Homo sapiens: one gene and its partners. The protein of the gene in region 4 purifies or fractionates together with the protein of the main gene of each other region. This does not show direct contact. Each region holds a gene or a part of one and is shown on either strand. Other genes may lie near its edges.

Evidence for each region.
Region 1: the proteins of LEP (region 4) and TOR3A purify together in Homo sapiens (affinity purification with mass spectrometry; one large-scale study listed by BioGRID and IntAct). This does not show direct contact.
Region 2: the proteins of LEP (region 4) and IDUA purify together in Homo sapiens (affinity purification with mass spectrometry; one large-scale study listed by BioGRID and IntAct). This does not show direct contact.
Region 3: the proteins of LEP (region 4) and GLB1L purify together in Homo sapiens (affinity purification with mass spectrometry; one large-scale study listed by BioGRID and IntAct). This does not show direct contact.

The regions. Positions count from the first base shown.
Region 1 is NC_000001.11:179,091,948-179,094,557, reverse strand, and holds part of TOR3A (torsin-3A precursor), read right to left. Parts: intron 466-2,610; coding exon 341-465; intron 1-340.
Region 2 is NC_000004.12:996,647-1,000,543, forward strand, and holds part of IDUA (alpha-L-iduronidase isoform a precursor), read left to right. Parts: intron 1-1,718; coding exon of another isoform or gene 1,719-2,343; intron 2,344-2,777; coding exon of another isoform or gene 2,778-3,109; exon of another isoform or gene 3,110-3,418; intron 3,419-3,897. Other genes in the region: uncharacterized protein LOC124900646, read left to right, coding at 1,719-2,343, 2,778-3,109.
Region 3 is NC_000002.12:219,236,098-219,239,668, forward strand, and holds the end of GLB1L (beta-galactosidase-1-like protein isoform 1 precursor), read right to left. Parts: coding exon 3,464-3,571; intron 3,355-3,463; coding exon 3,314-3,354; intron 3,114-3,313; coding exon 2,995-3,113; intron 2,683-2,994; coding exon 2,608-2,682; intron 2,488-2,607; coding exon 2,398-2,487; intron 2,267-2,397; coding exon 2,153-2,266; intron 1,861-2,152; coding exon 1,729-1,860; intron 1,631-1,728; coding exon 1,415-1,630; intron 1,251-1,414; coding exon 975-1,250; 3' UTR 501-974; downstream 1-500. Other genes in the region: tRNA endonuclease ANKZF1, read left to right, coding at 225-348.
Region 4 is NC_000007.14:128,254,598-128,258,420, reverse strand, and holds the end of LEP (leptin precursor), read right to left. Parts: coding exon 3,658-3,823; 3' UTR 792-3,657; downstream 1-791. UniProt on the Homo sapiens protein: Key player in the regulation of energy balance and body weight control. Once released into the circulation, has central and peripheral effects by binding LEPR, found in many tissues, which results in the activation of several major signaling pathways.

The DNA of each region.
Region 1 (2,610 bases), on a different chromosome or scaffold from region 4:
AACTCCAGGAGTGCTGTCTGCAGCGTATGTCAAGAACTCTACAGCTGTGTCTCCTTTAGGTAAAGTCTTGCAGTGAGACTCAGAGTCTCAGGCTTCAGAGACCACTGCGCCTGTTCTTGGGGCCAGTGCAAACTACTATTTCCAAGCATTCCCAGAAAAGGAGCTCAGGCTTTCTTACCACTTTTCTTGTGCCCACCCAGGGTTGACAATGTGAGATGATTATAGTCTGCCCTCTGTGTTCCCAAGTACCCTGTCTGCTTCATAAACACACATTCCAACAAACACATTAATTATCACCAGCTGTGGCTCTCACCAGAGGCATATTGAGTCAGTTACTCACCTATGGTCTCCACAATCTCCGCCTGGAGGTGGGGCTCCAGGTGTTCCATCGTAATTTCTTCCCGGGACCATCCAGCCTTGAGCAACTTTAGGACCACCTCATTGATTATATCGCCCCTGAGATTACTGAAAGAGACAAGAGCTTGTTAACCCATTTGTTTATATTTAGCTTCCATATATGTTATCTCACCGCTGAAACCAATGCATTAGTGCCTGGAAGAATAGAGGCTGAGGGGCGTGGACCTTCTCTCTCTTCCAGGAGACCTTGTCACAACCTCACAACCCAAAGGTCTGCACAGAAAAGACACTGTCCAGTTTTGCCACCCATTCTCTCTTGTTCCCTCTTGACACACACTTACTGAGACTGTGCTAAGTGCAGGGAGCATGAAAAGATGGTAAGATATGGTTCTTCTGTGTGGTCTGAGGGGCATCCGTGTATTCGGTTCCAGGACAGTGTGGCAAGCGCTAATGGAGGAGTGACTGAGTTCTAAGGAGAAGGCTTCAGAGGGAGGATGAGGCTTCTGAGCAAATAAAGACCAAGTAGTGATCATCAGACACTTGGCAAGGAAGGGAAGTGTCTAGGCCTGGGTGCGCCAGAGGAGCACAGGCATGAAAGGCTGGCTAAGGTGAGGAGGGCTTTGTCTGCCATTTGCATGGACTTGAGCTTATGGATCATGGAGAAGGGATGGAAAGGAGGATTTAAGAATTAGTTATGGAGGCACAATTGAAAAACCCTGTAACTGATGGATGTGAGAAGTGAAAGGAGGTCATCAAAGAACAAGCGTTAGCCTCAAGCTGCTTGCTGTCCCCCTTAACAGAGGTGGAACACGGAAAGGTGGAGATGAAAGTTTGGTTTTACACACGTTTGAGTGTTTTTTGCTTGCCTGTGATCTCTCTCAGGTTGTGATATCACTGGGCAACTGGAATTACGGGTCTGAAGCACAGAAAGTGATTTGGGTTAGAGATAGGAGGGAGAAAGGGGATAAGGAGAGAAGATGCAACCGTAGAGCCACCAGCAGGGAAGCTGGGACAGAGGTAGTGGAGACTTGGCCTTCCTCCGCCCTCCACGGCCCAGGCATACTTCTCCCCCACCTCACTGCACTCTCCTCCCCTCCCTGGGCTGCAGCCTCAGCCAGCTCCACCAGCTCCTTAAACCAAGTCCTTGCCCAGCTCCACATCAATGCACTTGCACTTCCCCGTGCTTTCTCTCTTTTTGGAGACAGTCTCATTCTGTCACCCAGATTGGAGTACAGTGGCGTGATTTTGGCTCACTGCAGCCTCCACCTCCCCAGGCTCAGCTGATCCTCTCACCTCAGCCTCCTAAGTAGCTGAGACTGCAGGTACATGCCACCCTACCCAGCTATTTTTTTTTTTCTTGAGACAGAGTTTCACTCTTGTTGCCCAGGCTGGAGTGCAGTGGCGTGATCTCAGCTCACAGCAGCCTCTGCCTCCCGGATTCAAGAGATTCTCCTGCCTCAGCCTCCCAAGTAGCTGGGATTACAGGCACATGCCACAATGCCCAGCTAATTTTTTTAGTAGAGACAGGGTTTCACCATGTTGGCCAGGCTGGTCTCAAACTCCTGACCTCAGCTGATCTGCCCGCCTCCCAAAGTGCTAGGATGACAGGTGTGCCCGGCCCTATTTTTAAAATTTTTTTGTAGAGACGAGGTCTCACTATGTTCCCTAGGCTGGTCTCAAACTCCTAGGCTCAAGTGATTCTCCCACCTCAGTCTCCCAAAGTGTTGGGATGACAGGCATGAGCCACTAGGCCTAGCCTCCCTTGCATTTTCCTCAGGTCCAGCAGAATGAGGGAGGGTAAAGGACAGGGAAGGCAGGTGGCAGGTTAAGGAGTGGGGAACCAGTATCTCCATCTCTTTCCCTCCTTACCCAGCTCTGAAAGCCCCCATGACACCTACCAGTATATTAGCTCACATCTTTGCTCATTTAGCCTGTGACCACACCCTGTTGACTAGGCTCCATGGGGGCTGCTGGGAAATGAGGGGAGCTGTGTGGTTCTCTCCCTCCCTGCCTCCACCATTGCGTAGAGGCTAAGGCTGGGCAGGCGTCCTTCCCTGCCACGCAGGTTAAGCCCGGACAGCCAAGTTGTCTAGCTAGGTGCCTCATTGTAGGGGGAGGTGCTAATGTGTCTTTCACTGCCAGAATTTACCAGGGGCTGAGAGCTCCCAGCTGGAGGAGCCCGGCAGGAACAAGGGCCATCTGCAGTGCTTGCTCAAGGTCAGTTGCTCAGCCAGGCTTTCCCCGGGGAAGCTG
Region 2 (3,897 bases), on a different chromosome or scaffold from region 4:
CCCACCTAGGCTGGGTGTCTAAAGTAGGTGAGGTCATCACTGCAGGATCCTTGGGGCCTGACCTGCCCCCTCCCACGTGTCTCTGCCTCAGTTTCTCTGAGCATTGAGGCAGTGGCTGGTGCTGTCCTGTGGCCAGGCCCAGAGGCTGAGTGCCCAGGGGGTCCAGGGGCCTTGCTGGCCAGAGAGAGTGGGTAGCCCATTCTACCCCGAGCCTGTGCACGCGCAGGGCTGCCAACACCTCCTTCCTTCCCCGCTTGGCCCACGCAGGACAGGGGGCGTGGGGGCCCCAGCAACTGGGACCTGCCTGAATCCGCCTCCCTCCTGAACCCCCCTCCCGCCTGAACCCCTGGCCAGTCTTGTGTCACACGCTTACTTCCTTAGTTTTGTCTTTAAATCAGCCGTTTTACATTGGAGTCCATTTACTGGGAAAGGAGACCTTGCATCCTTGCCTCCCACCCGTGGGAAGAAGCCCGGCCGACAGGGCTTTGAGACCGGACCCGAGTTTATTCCCAGAGACCCTCCCGCGGGTGGGCGAGCTCCGAGGTCTGGAGAAGAGGAGGCCCCGGCCCGCACCCTCTAGCACCTGTGTCCCCTTCGTCCCGGCCACAGATGCAGGTTCTCCCAAGAGGCGGGTCTGTACCCGCCCCGCGCCCCCAGCCCAGCGGGCCCGGCCTCCGCCCCTGCCCCGCACTCCCACCCCCACCCTCAGGAGAGCGCGGCCCTGCTCCCCACCCCGCGCGGTCTCCCCCCACCGCCTGCGAACCCCCATGCACGCGCGGCCCCGCCCCGCGCACTCACCAGGCCCGGCAGCCGCGCGGTCTTAGCGGCTCACGCGCTCGGGCCCAGGGGCGGGGACGTGGGGACCCGGGCGGCCGCTCAGCCGCGGCCGCGCGGTGAATGAGCCCGTTGTGCGGCCGCCGCGGCCCCAGCGACACCCCGCGCGGGGTCTACAAGGGCTGACGCGCCCCCGCGGCTTCCGTTCCCGGGCTGGGCGGTGGCTCGTCTGCGTCTCCGGCCCTGGGGGTGGGCTGCGCGCTCCATCTCGCCGGCCCAGTCCCCTCCCCAGCGTCGGTCTCTCAAGGCCCCTCCCAATGGGGGCCAGGCGGAGGGTGGGCCCTCGGGCCTGTGGACTGACCCCGGGGTTCCTGGGCCTGGGGGCGGGGATCCCTGTCCCGGGCTCCCCTCGCTGCGAGGCTGGCCCTGCCAGATGACACTCAGAGGCGCCTTGGGTGTCAGGCCAGGGACATCTCTGATGCTGGGGCTCCCCCCGCTAGGGTCAGGGGCTGCCGGGCTATCGCCTTGGGGTTCTGCAGAGAAAACCTGAAGCCCAGCTGGGTCTTCACTTTCCTCCAGGTCACCGTGCCCCGCTACTCCAACTCCGTGGGACTTTGGAATGCACCTTCTGGGCATTTAATTCTTATCCAAGTGCCTCTTAAGTTATACTTCTTTGCTACCAGTGTGTCCTTTGGATGGAGGGGAGGAGAGGTGGTAGGGGCCGGGTGGGGTGGACCCCAGGGACTCCTGCTGCTCCTGCTGGACACCCAGCCCGGGGTACAGGAGCAGGTGGGGACCAGCAGAGGCGGGGCGGAGCAGGAGCCCACACCCAAAGGCTGTAGACTCCTGCCAAGGCTCTGCCTTGATCTTGTACACCATGGGAGGACCAGAAGGGAGGCGTTGAGGTGTCCAGACCTTTGCTGTGGAGCTGGGGGTGCTGTGGCATGGGGAGACTGACAGACGGGGAGCTGTATAGGGCCAGATTCCGGTCCATGGTGGTAACCCCATCCCCCACCACTGCAGATGCGGCACAAAGCCAGCTGCCACAGGAGGTGCACTGCCCCACGGGCAGCTGTGCTCACCTGCGTGGCGTCCGCAGGAAGCCCTCAGACCCTGGCCAGCCTGGTCTCTGCTTCTCACTCCAGGCTCAAGGCTGGCTGCTATTCCATTCACCCCATTCCCTTTCCCTCAGGCCAGAAGCATCACTCACAACTCCAGACCCTTGCACACCAATCTCCTCACTCAGTTCACCCTCAGATGTCCAACTCCACATGGCCAAAACCGAGACCAGTCTCACTCCAAGCTCATCCACCCGCCTAGCTGCCCAAGCTGAAATCCACAGTTGCCCTGTACGACCCCCCGACCCCCCACCTCACCCCCCAGCTCACCTCAAACCTCATCAGTCCCTCTGCTCACAGCCTGCACAGCCACCACCCAGTCTGGGCACCATACCTCTCTGGGCAACCCCCATGGCCCCCAGCCAGTCTTCCAGCTCCCACCCTGACTCCAGTGAGCTGCCAGAGGGATCCTTGAAAAATGCTCTGGAAGCCAAGGTGGGCGGATCACGAGGTCAGGAAATGGAAACCATCCTGGCTAACATGGTGAAACTCCGTCTCTACTAAAAATACAAAAAAATTAGCCGGGCGTGGTGGCGGGCGCCTGTAGTCCCAGCTACTCAGGAGGCTGAGGCAGGAGAATGGTGTGAACCCGGGAGGGGGAGCTTGCAGTGAGCCGAGATCGCGCCACTGCACCCCAGGCTGGGCAACAGAGTGAGACTCTGTCTCAAAAAAAAAAAAAAGAAAAAAGAAAAATGCCCTGGCACTGCTCAGCTCAGAACCTTGAAAGGGATCCTTGTTTCGCTCTGGGTCAGGGTCCCATCCTCAAAGCAGTCACTTCCAGAGCCCCATGGAGCCTCATATCCCATGATATCCACCCTTATTCTGTCTCAGGCCCACCAGCTGCCTCCCTGCTGCCTGATTGTCATGTGTGCATTCCTGTTCCAGAGCCTTTGCACTGGCGATGCCATCTGCTGCCTGGATGTCTTCCTGCTGGCTGGTCCCGTTGCATGGTAGCCTTAGGTGTCTCCTCAGAGAGGTCCCTCGCTGACCATCAGGCTCCTCACTCCCTGTCGTATCCCCTTCACCAAAGATTCCCATTCCCTGACGACGCCTGTCCCCTCGGAATGCAGGCCTCGTGGGAATTCAGCCCATCCGCAAGTGCAGTGGCAGGGCGGCCCCCTTCCCCCTTGACGACGCCTGTCCCCTTGGAATGCAGGCCTCGTGGGAATTCAGCCCATCTGCAAGTGCAGTGGCAGGGCGGCCCCCTTCTCCCTTGAGGACGCCTGTCCCCTCGTAATGCAGGCCTCGTGGGAATTCAGCCCATCTGCAAGTGCAGTGGCAGGGCGGCCCCCTTCTCCCTTGAGGACGCCTGTCCCCTCGTAATGCAGGCCTCGTGGGAATTCAGCCCATCTGCAAGTGCAGTGGCAGGGCGGCCCCCTTCTCCCTTGAGGACGCCTGTCCCCTCGGAATGCAGGCCTCGTGGGAATTCAGCCCCATCTGCAAGTGCAGTGGCAGGGCGGCCCCCTTCTCCCTTGACGACGCCTGTCCCCTCGGAATGCAGGCCTCGTGGGAATTCAGCCCCATCGGCAAGTGCAGTGGCAGGGCGGCCCCCTTCACCCTTGACGACGCCTGTCCCCTCGGAATGCAGGCCTCATGGGAATTCAGCCCATCTGCAAGTGCAGTGGCAGGGTGGCCCCCTTCTCCCTTTCCTGTGCACTCATGTTGCCTCTTGGGGTGTGGGAGGGGAAATGGGGCACTCCTGGGCCTCCAGGAGGTGCAGAGAACCAGGGTGAGGTGTCCACCAGGTCCTGCCTGGCTCCTGACCCCTGGCCCCTGCTGCTCGCGACTGGCCTGCCTCGTGCCACTGAGCCTCAGAGCCATTCCGAACCCCCACCCCAAGTTTTCCATCTCTTGATGGTGTAGGGTTGGGGGGTCTCCATGTACAGATACTCTAGTTCATACCAGGCCTTCATAGGGTTATTTTCCAAGGGGAAGGGCCCCTCGGGAAGCCGGGATCGGAGTCCTGTGTGGCACCTTGCAGGCTCCCACATGCTCCGTTGTGGCC
Region 3 (3,571 bases), on a different chromosome or scaffold from region 4:
ATGGGGTGCGGGATGAGGGAGTGGGTGGACTGTAATGTTGCAGGGACCATTGGGGGCAAGAGAAATGAGTACCTGCACAGTATTCAGAAGGGTGGTTGAGGGAATTTGGGATGTTCTGGCAGATGCTGCAGTGAAAACAGAAATGGCAGGAGGAGGGACGGGGAGAGCGTGGATTGGAAAGTTTCTGGGGTACCTGTCCAGCCATTTTTCTTCCTCTTGTTCAGACGCTGCTGGAGTTGTGGGGCATCCCTCCAAGGCCTGACTCCCTTTCACTACCTCGACTTCTCTTTCTGCTCCACACGTTGCCTCCAGGATCATCGCCGTCAGGCAGGGAGGCCCTCTTCCTGATCTCTTACAGCTCTACCTGGGGCCAACTCAGGGACCTGAGAGGGCACATTCACAGCAGCCCTAGGTTTTTTCTTCCCCGTGAAACCAGAGATGATTTGGAAGATGGGGGTGAAGGACACTCGGGAACTAGGGCAAAGACAGGGCTAGAGGTATGTGGAGCTGGTACTGTCTCTGGAATTTTAATCACAATAAAGTTTGGCAAGGAATGTGTACTTGTACTTACATTCAGAGGCACTGTGGCCTTTAGTTCCTTAGGGTCACCGTGGCCAGCACCAAGGGATCCTGCCCACTCCATGTCCCAGGTCCAAGGGTTACTTTTTTTTTTTTTTTTTTTTTTGAGATGGAGTGTCTCACTGTCAGCCAGGCTGGAGTGCAGTGGTACAACCTCCACTCACTGCAACCTCTGCCTCCTGGATTCAAGCAATTCTCCTGCCCTCAGCCTCCCAAGTAGCTGGGATTAGAGGTGCCCACCATCACGCCCGGCTAATTTTTGTATTTTTAGTGGAGACGGGGTTTCACCATGTTGGCCAGGCTGGTCTTGAAGTCCTGACCTCAGGTAATCCACCCGTCTCAGCCTCCCAAAGTGCTGGGATTACAGGCATGAGCCACCATGCCCGGCCTACCTTTCAGTGCCCACTTAACTCCATTGGTTCAGAGGCACTCAGTGTATCAGCTGAAAGGGAATTGATATGTGTCCTGTGCAAAGTACTAGTGCTATTGAGGATAGGCTTATCCAAAAATTGGACTTGGGGCTGGAGAGGTACATCTTCTAGTTCCAGCAATGTAATTTTGTTGAGGGCTCCCCTAGGAAACAGCAGGAATCTTGGCACGTAGAGGGTCTGTTGTGGCCCCTGCTTTGTCCAGTACCGGCCCAAGTTAAACCCATTGATCCAGACTTGGCCCTGGGGAATAGGGAGCAGGAAAGAGGGGAAAAGAAAGGGTCAGCTCTCCAGGGGTAGAATCATACCCTTTTGGGTTTCTAATCAGAGGATACTTTCTGCTCCCCTCCTTCTGTGATTTTTCTCTTTTACCTCCCCGCTACCCAAACCACCACCATTACCAATACCTTGGTCCATCCAGGTAGATATAGAAATGTGTCCCCAACTGAGCCTAAAATTGGAAATGTTTTGGAGTAGAATGTGGGGCCAGAAGGAGCTTGAGGATATGGCCATTTTGGCAACTGGAGGGGAAACCACCACTTCACAAGGTTATCAATTTTCAGAGGGAACATCATCCACTGGGTAAGGATTGTTTGCCCCAGAATTGGTGGCTTCAACAGGCCCTATAGGGAAGGAAAATGAAAAGTCATCATTCACTAAGCTTTGAAGCTAAGTTATCCTTAATCAAGCCCTGGGATATAACTAGGCAAAGCTAGCTCACCTTGAAGTCACTGCTGTTAGACCCAAAGCTGAGCCTCCCCATGTTCTCCACCAAGATATCCAGTTTGGACCCCAGTTTCCCCGTCAAAAATAGTTTGTCTCTCATATTTCGCTCCACAACACCCTGGAACACCTGTGGATAGGAGATAGGATAGGAGCAAGGCTCAGCATCTAGCTCTTAGCCACTGCATAGGAAACCACACATTAGGATACTTATTTGGAGGGCAGAGAGAATGTAGCCATCTATCACCCATCTATTCTAGAATTCTATCCTTAATCAAACTCTTCCTCATCCCAGCTTATCCCTGGAACCCTCTGCAAACGTGAACAGGCAGGTGGGAAAGTGTAAATATGGGGAACTTAAGGCTAACGCTTCCTGGGGAAGGGAGGAGTTTGGGGCTCACAGCCTGGAATTAGGTTCTCACCCCATCCACCATCACATAGGCACGGTCATGGACTCCATTATTTGGCACCCAGAATGGTGTTGGCTCAAAAATGGTATGGGTCATATAGGTTCGGTACAACATGAAGCCATGGTCCTGGGTATGGAAGAATGAGTACTTCAGACAAACAGAAATAAAAGAGGACACTGTGACTATAGCCAAGGAACTTTTGCGTATAGCTGTTAAGGGAGGTTGTCATCTCCACCAGATGTGGGTTTATGCCTTACCTGCTTGACAGCCTCAAAGGTCATTGGCAAGATTGAATGAATGGGCCCACGGGGGCAAAGCAAGTCTAGGAAAGCCAGTAAATGCCCAACCTATTAGAATAAGGGAGAAGAATTAGAATATCAGGGAAGTTTCTGGATAGAGGACAAGAAAGAATAGGCTATTTAGAAAAAAAAGGTGTGGTATAAGAGAAAAGATGTGGAGGAACTTACCAGGTGCAGAGTCACAGGTCCAAGCATCATCTTGGGGCTCGGGGGAGGTAAAGGTCCCAAAGGAACTTCCTGGAACTGAGCCCAGATTCTCTCAGGATCCATAGGAAAACCACAGAAAACAATACCTATTCCAAGACTCTAGGGCAGAGTTCCTAACCTGGGGCCCAGGGAAGGGCTTCAGGGATCATGGAGGCTCAATAATTTTGCACACCTGTGTGTCTTCACACATAGTCCCATTTGGTTGAATGGGAAATGCCTCAGTGGGATGCTCAGAAGGCTCTGTGGCCCAGACAATAACCACCAATTTATGGGATACCTTTACAATGTGGGCACTCCCTTCCTCCAAATTAATAAAAGCCTTTGGAGCTTAATGAAATGGTAGGGTACCTTGCTGATGACATCTCGAAGAGCAAAAAGCTTAGGTGTGGGGTCCCCTGCTTCAGATATAGGTGCATCATAGTCATAGCTGGTAGTAATCGGAAGGAAGCGTCCCTTCTTATCGGCACCTGAAGTTGAGCCAATTTAATTAATTCAACATGTATTTCAGATGACAGGCACTACTAAGCATGCTTCATGCAGAGAATTTTGCCATCAGAGGGGGCAGAGGTGGCCATATTCAGCTTCTAGACATCCTAATCCACCTGGCCCTTAGATTCTAATTCCTTGTTACCTCCCTGCTTCTATCCCAGGGACCATCTGGACTCACCATTCCAATATCCAAAGTTGGTACCTCCATGGAACATGTACCTGAAGTGAGAGAGGGTGGGGGAACAGGTAAAAGCTGACTCACTGAATCTTAACTTTCATCCCCAGCTCCCAGCTACAGATTCATATTGCCCCCAGTGTCTTTACTTACATGTTCACACTGGCTCCCAACTTGAGCATGTTCTCTAGTCCTTTGGTTACAGCTGACACAGACCGTGTGGAGTGATTCTGGCCCCAGTAATCCAGCCAGCCTGTGTAG
Region 4 (3,823 bases):
CACCCAGGCTGGAGTGCAGTGGCATGATCTCGGTTCACTGCCACCTCTGCCTCCCGAGTTCAAGCGATTCTCCTGCCTCAGCCTGCCAAGTAGCTGGGATTACACGCACGTGCCACCATGCCTGGCTACTTTTTGTATTTTCAGTAGAGATGGGGTTTTGCTATGTTGGCCAGGCTTGTCTCGAACTCTTGGTCTCAAGTGATCCACCCACCTTGACCTTCCAAAGTGCTGGGATTATAGGCATGAGCCATCGTGCCTGGCCCAAGAATCTCAATTCTTCTGGCCACCAAATCAGAATGGAGGGGTACATTGTGCTGGGCATTGTGCCAAATTAGTTGCATCATGAGGTGATGCTGAACTCTTTATTTCTTCTCTCTTCATTCCCCTCATCCCTCTTTCCCTGTGGATCCTGTCCTTCTTCCATCCCAGTGGATGCCTCTTTCTGTCCTTGCTCTGTCCCGTGTTAAGGGGCCTCTCCAAAGTGGATCCCTTCTTCCCGAGGACCCCTCTCTTTGTCCTCATTCCTTGGGATGGCACAGAGGCCTCTCTCTGGCTCTTGGTGTGTGCTTCCTGTGCCTCCCTGCAACCTGTTTCCCAGTCCTCTCAGCGTCCAAACCCAGCTCTGTTTTCTTTACAGGGTAATCCTTTTGCCTGAATAACTGGCGGCTGGCTGTGGCCAAGCCTGGGGCGGAGCTGACCCCAGTGATGGATGGGGGCCAGCCAGGCCTTGCCCTGTCACACACAAACAGCTCTCCCGAAGCCCCTCCAGGAACGGCGACAGGAAACAAAGAGCAGGGGGCAAAGTTATTTTATTTAGATTTTTTTAAAAACAAACTTTTTTTTTTTTTTTTTTAAGACGGAATCTCGCTCTGTCATCAGGCCGGAGTGCAGTGGCGCGATCTTGGCTCACTGTACTCTCCGCCTCCCAGGTTTAAGCGATTCTCCTGTCTCAGCCTCCCGAGTGGCTGGGACTACAGGCGCCCGCCACCACGCTCAGCTAACTTTTGTGTTTTTAGTAGAGACGGGGTTTCACCATGTTGGCCAGGATGCTCGCCATCTAGTGACCTTGTGATCCCCCCACCTTGGCCTCCCAAAGTGCTGGGATTACAGGCGTGAGCCACCGCACCCGGCCAAACTTTTTTTTTTTTTTTTAAGTTACAAAAACAGACAACCATTTATACTTAGGAAGTTTCACACTCTGGGAATTAGCCATTGTGCCAGGTTTTGTGAGCAAAAGGCTTAAGACACCTCAGCCTGATTAGGTGGTTGTGAGGATCTGGGTCACATTTTCCAGAGCAGCTCTCACCCTGGCCACAGCACCAGCCTCTTCTCTAGAACTTGCTACTCTTAACTCCTTTAATATCAAACTTCTTTACCCTTCAAGGTCCCTTCAGCATGGCCCTTGCCCTCCTGTCTCTTCTTTCTCTGCCTCTCGCTGTAACTCACTGCTCACACTTTTACCTCTGCATCTCCACACACCAAACCTTCCAACAAAACAGGCTTCTCTCTGCAGGCAATTCACATCCCTCACCTCCTTCAAACTCTACCTCGAAACTCCTCTTTTCCAGAAAGCGCTCGGTCTCCCTGGTTCCAGTCCCTCATTACCTGGCTCACGTAATGCTCTGGGTATCAGAGGACCTGGGCTATAGTCCTGGTCCTGCCACCTGTTGGCTGTTATGGTCTTATGTATTTTCTTATTTTTAAATTCTCAGTTATCTTGTTTCAAAGGGATGTGGCTATAATAGAAGCTAAGATGCCCTGAAAAGTAAACATGTTACAAAGTGCAAGCAGGGTTCCCTGTGGGCCCCTGGGCACGGCCCCCCTCAGCTCATACCATTTCCCACCTGCTGTCAACTGCACCATGCATTTGGCTGTTCAGCTGCTGTGGTAAATACCCCACCTTGGCACATGGGTGAGTGCGGTTTGACCACTGGGAATGCAAGATCCCTGAGGGCAGGCCTCAATCTTAATGTTTATTGGGTGAGCTTCTCCAGCCTATAGCACCAGTCAGGGCTGAGCATGAAGCAGGTGCTCAGTCTTAAAGTTAACTGCTTTGATTCAAGTTTCCTTGGACAGATCCACCACCCACTGTGTGATAGCAAAAACACAGCAGCAGGATGGTGGCAGACCCCAAACCTCCTCTTTCATCTTCCTGAATGTGACCTCCAGTGGGAAGGGCCATCCTGGTGGCCTGGCCTGGGGAGTCCTGGCACTCGCCTAGCAGTGCTTGTCAGGTCTCAGGACCACCTGCTAAAGGAGTTTTCTTCACCACTGGAGTAAAAACCCCCCAAGATTTTTGGTAATTTTGGCCTTGCTTGGGTGAGCCAATCAGACAAGAACTACAATTTGGCATGCAAGCCCCAAATAGGAACACTGCCATGTAATAAACCCAGAGTGTGATCAACCCTGGACCATTCAGAGGGTCACACCAAGGACCCCTGCTCTGAAGATCGCAGTCACCAGTGTGGGACCGTCACTCCATGATAGGAAAGACCACTCCCTAGCAGTCGGAGAAAGCCAGAGCTTACCACTGCCCCAACAAATGGCTTTCAGCCCTTTGCGTTTTATTCTGGATGGATTTGAAGCAAAGCATCAGCTTCTCCAGGCTCTTTGGGGTCAGCCAGGGCCAGAAACTTCTCTCCAGGGGGTGCCTGGCCAGGCCTCACAACCCCCCTGAAAGAGCTATTTTCATGAAAAACATCCTAAGCAATTGCAGAAGATAAGAAAATGATCTCACTCCTTCCAAAGAACCCACCACACAAATGTTATTCAGAAAACACATTCTAGATCCTTCTCCCTTCTGCCCAAACATTCCCCACCCCTGGGTGCAGACACCTACATATGACACTTGACAAAACAAATCTTTTTAAAATAACCTGGTCCTTGGAGATCCACTCAGGGCAACACCATTGCAAACACTGTGATGTAACATCAGTCACAGTAGAAATGAAACCAGTTACGAGAGAACTAACTGGAGAGCCACCTTTGCCAGCTCTTGCTCAGATGAACCCAACCCTCGAGTCACTCAAAATGGGTTCAGCTCAGCCAGACCCATCTATGGGATTGGAAACTGCACTCCAGGGAGACCCCTGGCCCTGGCTGACCCCAAAGAGCCTGGAGAAGCTGGTGCTTTGCTTCAAATCCATCCAGAATAAAATGCAGAATAAATAAACATGTGCTTCCAGCTTGTGTTGCTGGGAGTTCCTGCGTGTGTGGATGTGGTCTTCATGGAACTCCTTGGAATTCTCAGAGGGAACCTTGTTCTGGTCATCCAAAGGCTCTGCCTACCCCTCTGCCCTCTCTGAAATCACCCCTGGTCACATTGAGGCATTCAGTGAGGGGGAGATGGGTCAAGAGGGGACAAGACAACTCTTGTTGATGGCTGAAGACCTTGGTGGGAATCCCAGATGCAGCCCACTCTTTGCTGGGTGGACCCCCTTCCTGGTGAGAATAGGATCCTGTGTATATATCTTTGGTTTCAAGCAAAAGGAGGCTTAGGGTCTTATGCCTTTGGAAGAGTGGCTTAGAGGAGTCAGGGAAATTGACAGAGTCCTGGATAAGGGGTGTCCATGCAATGCTCTTCAATCCTGGAGATACCTGGAAGCCAGAGTTCCTTCCCTTAACGTAGTCCTTGCAGGAAGAGTGACCTTCAAGGCCTCAGCACCCAGGGCTGAGGTCCAGCTGCCACAGCATGTCCTGCAGAGACCCCTGCAGCCTGCTCAGGGCCACCACCTCTGTGGAGTAGCCTGAAGCTTCCAGGACACCCCCCAGGCTGTCCAAGGTCTCCAGGCCACTGGCCCAGGGCAAGTGGCAGCTCTTAGAG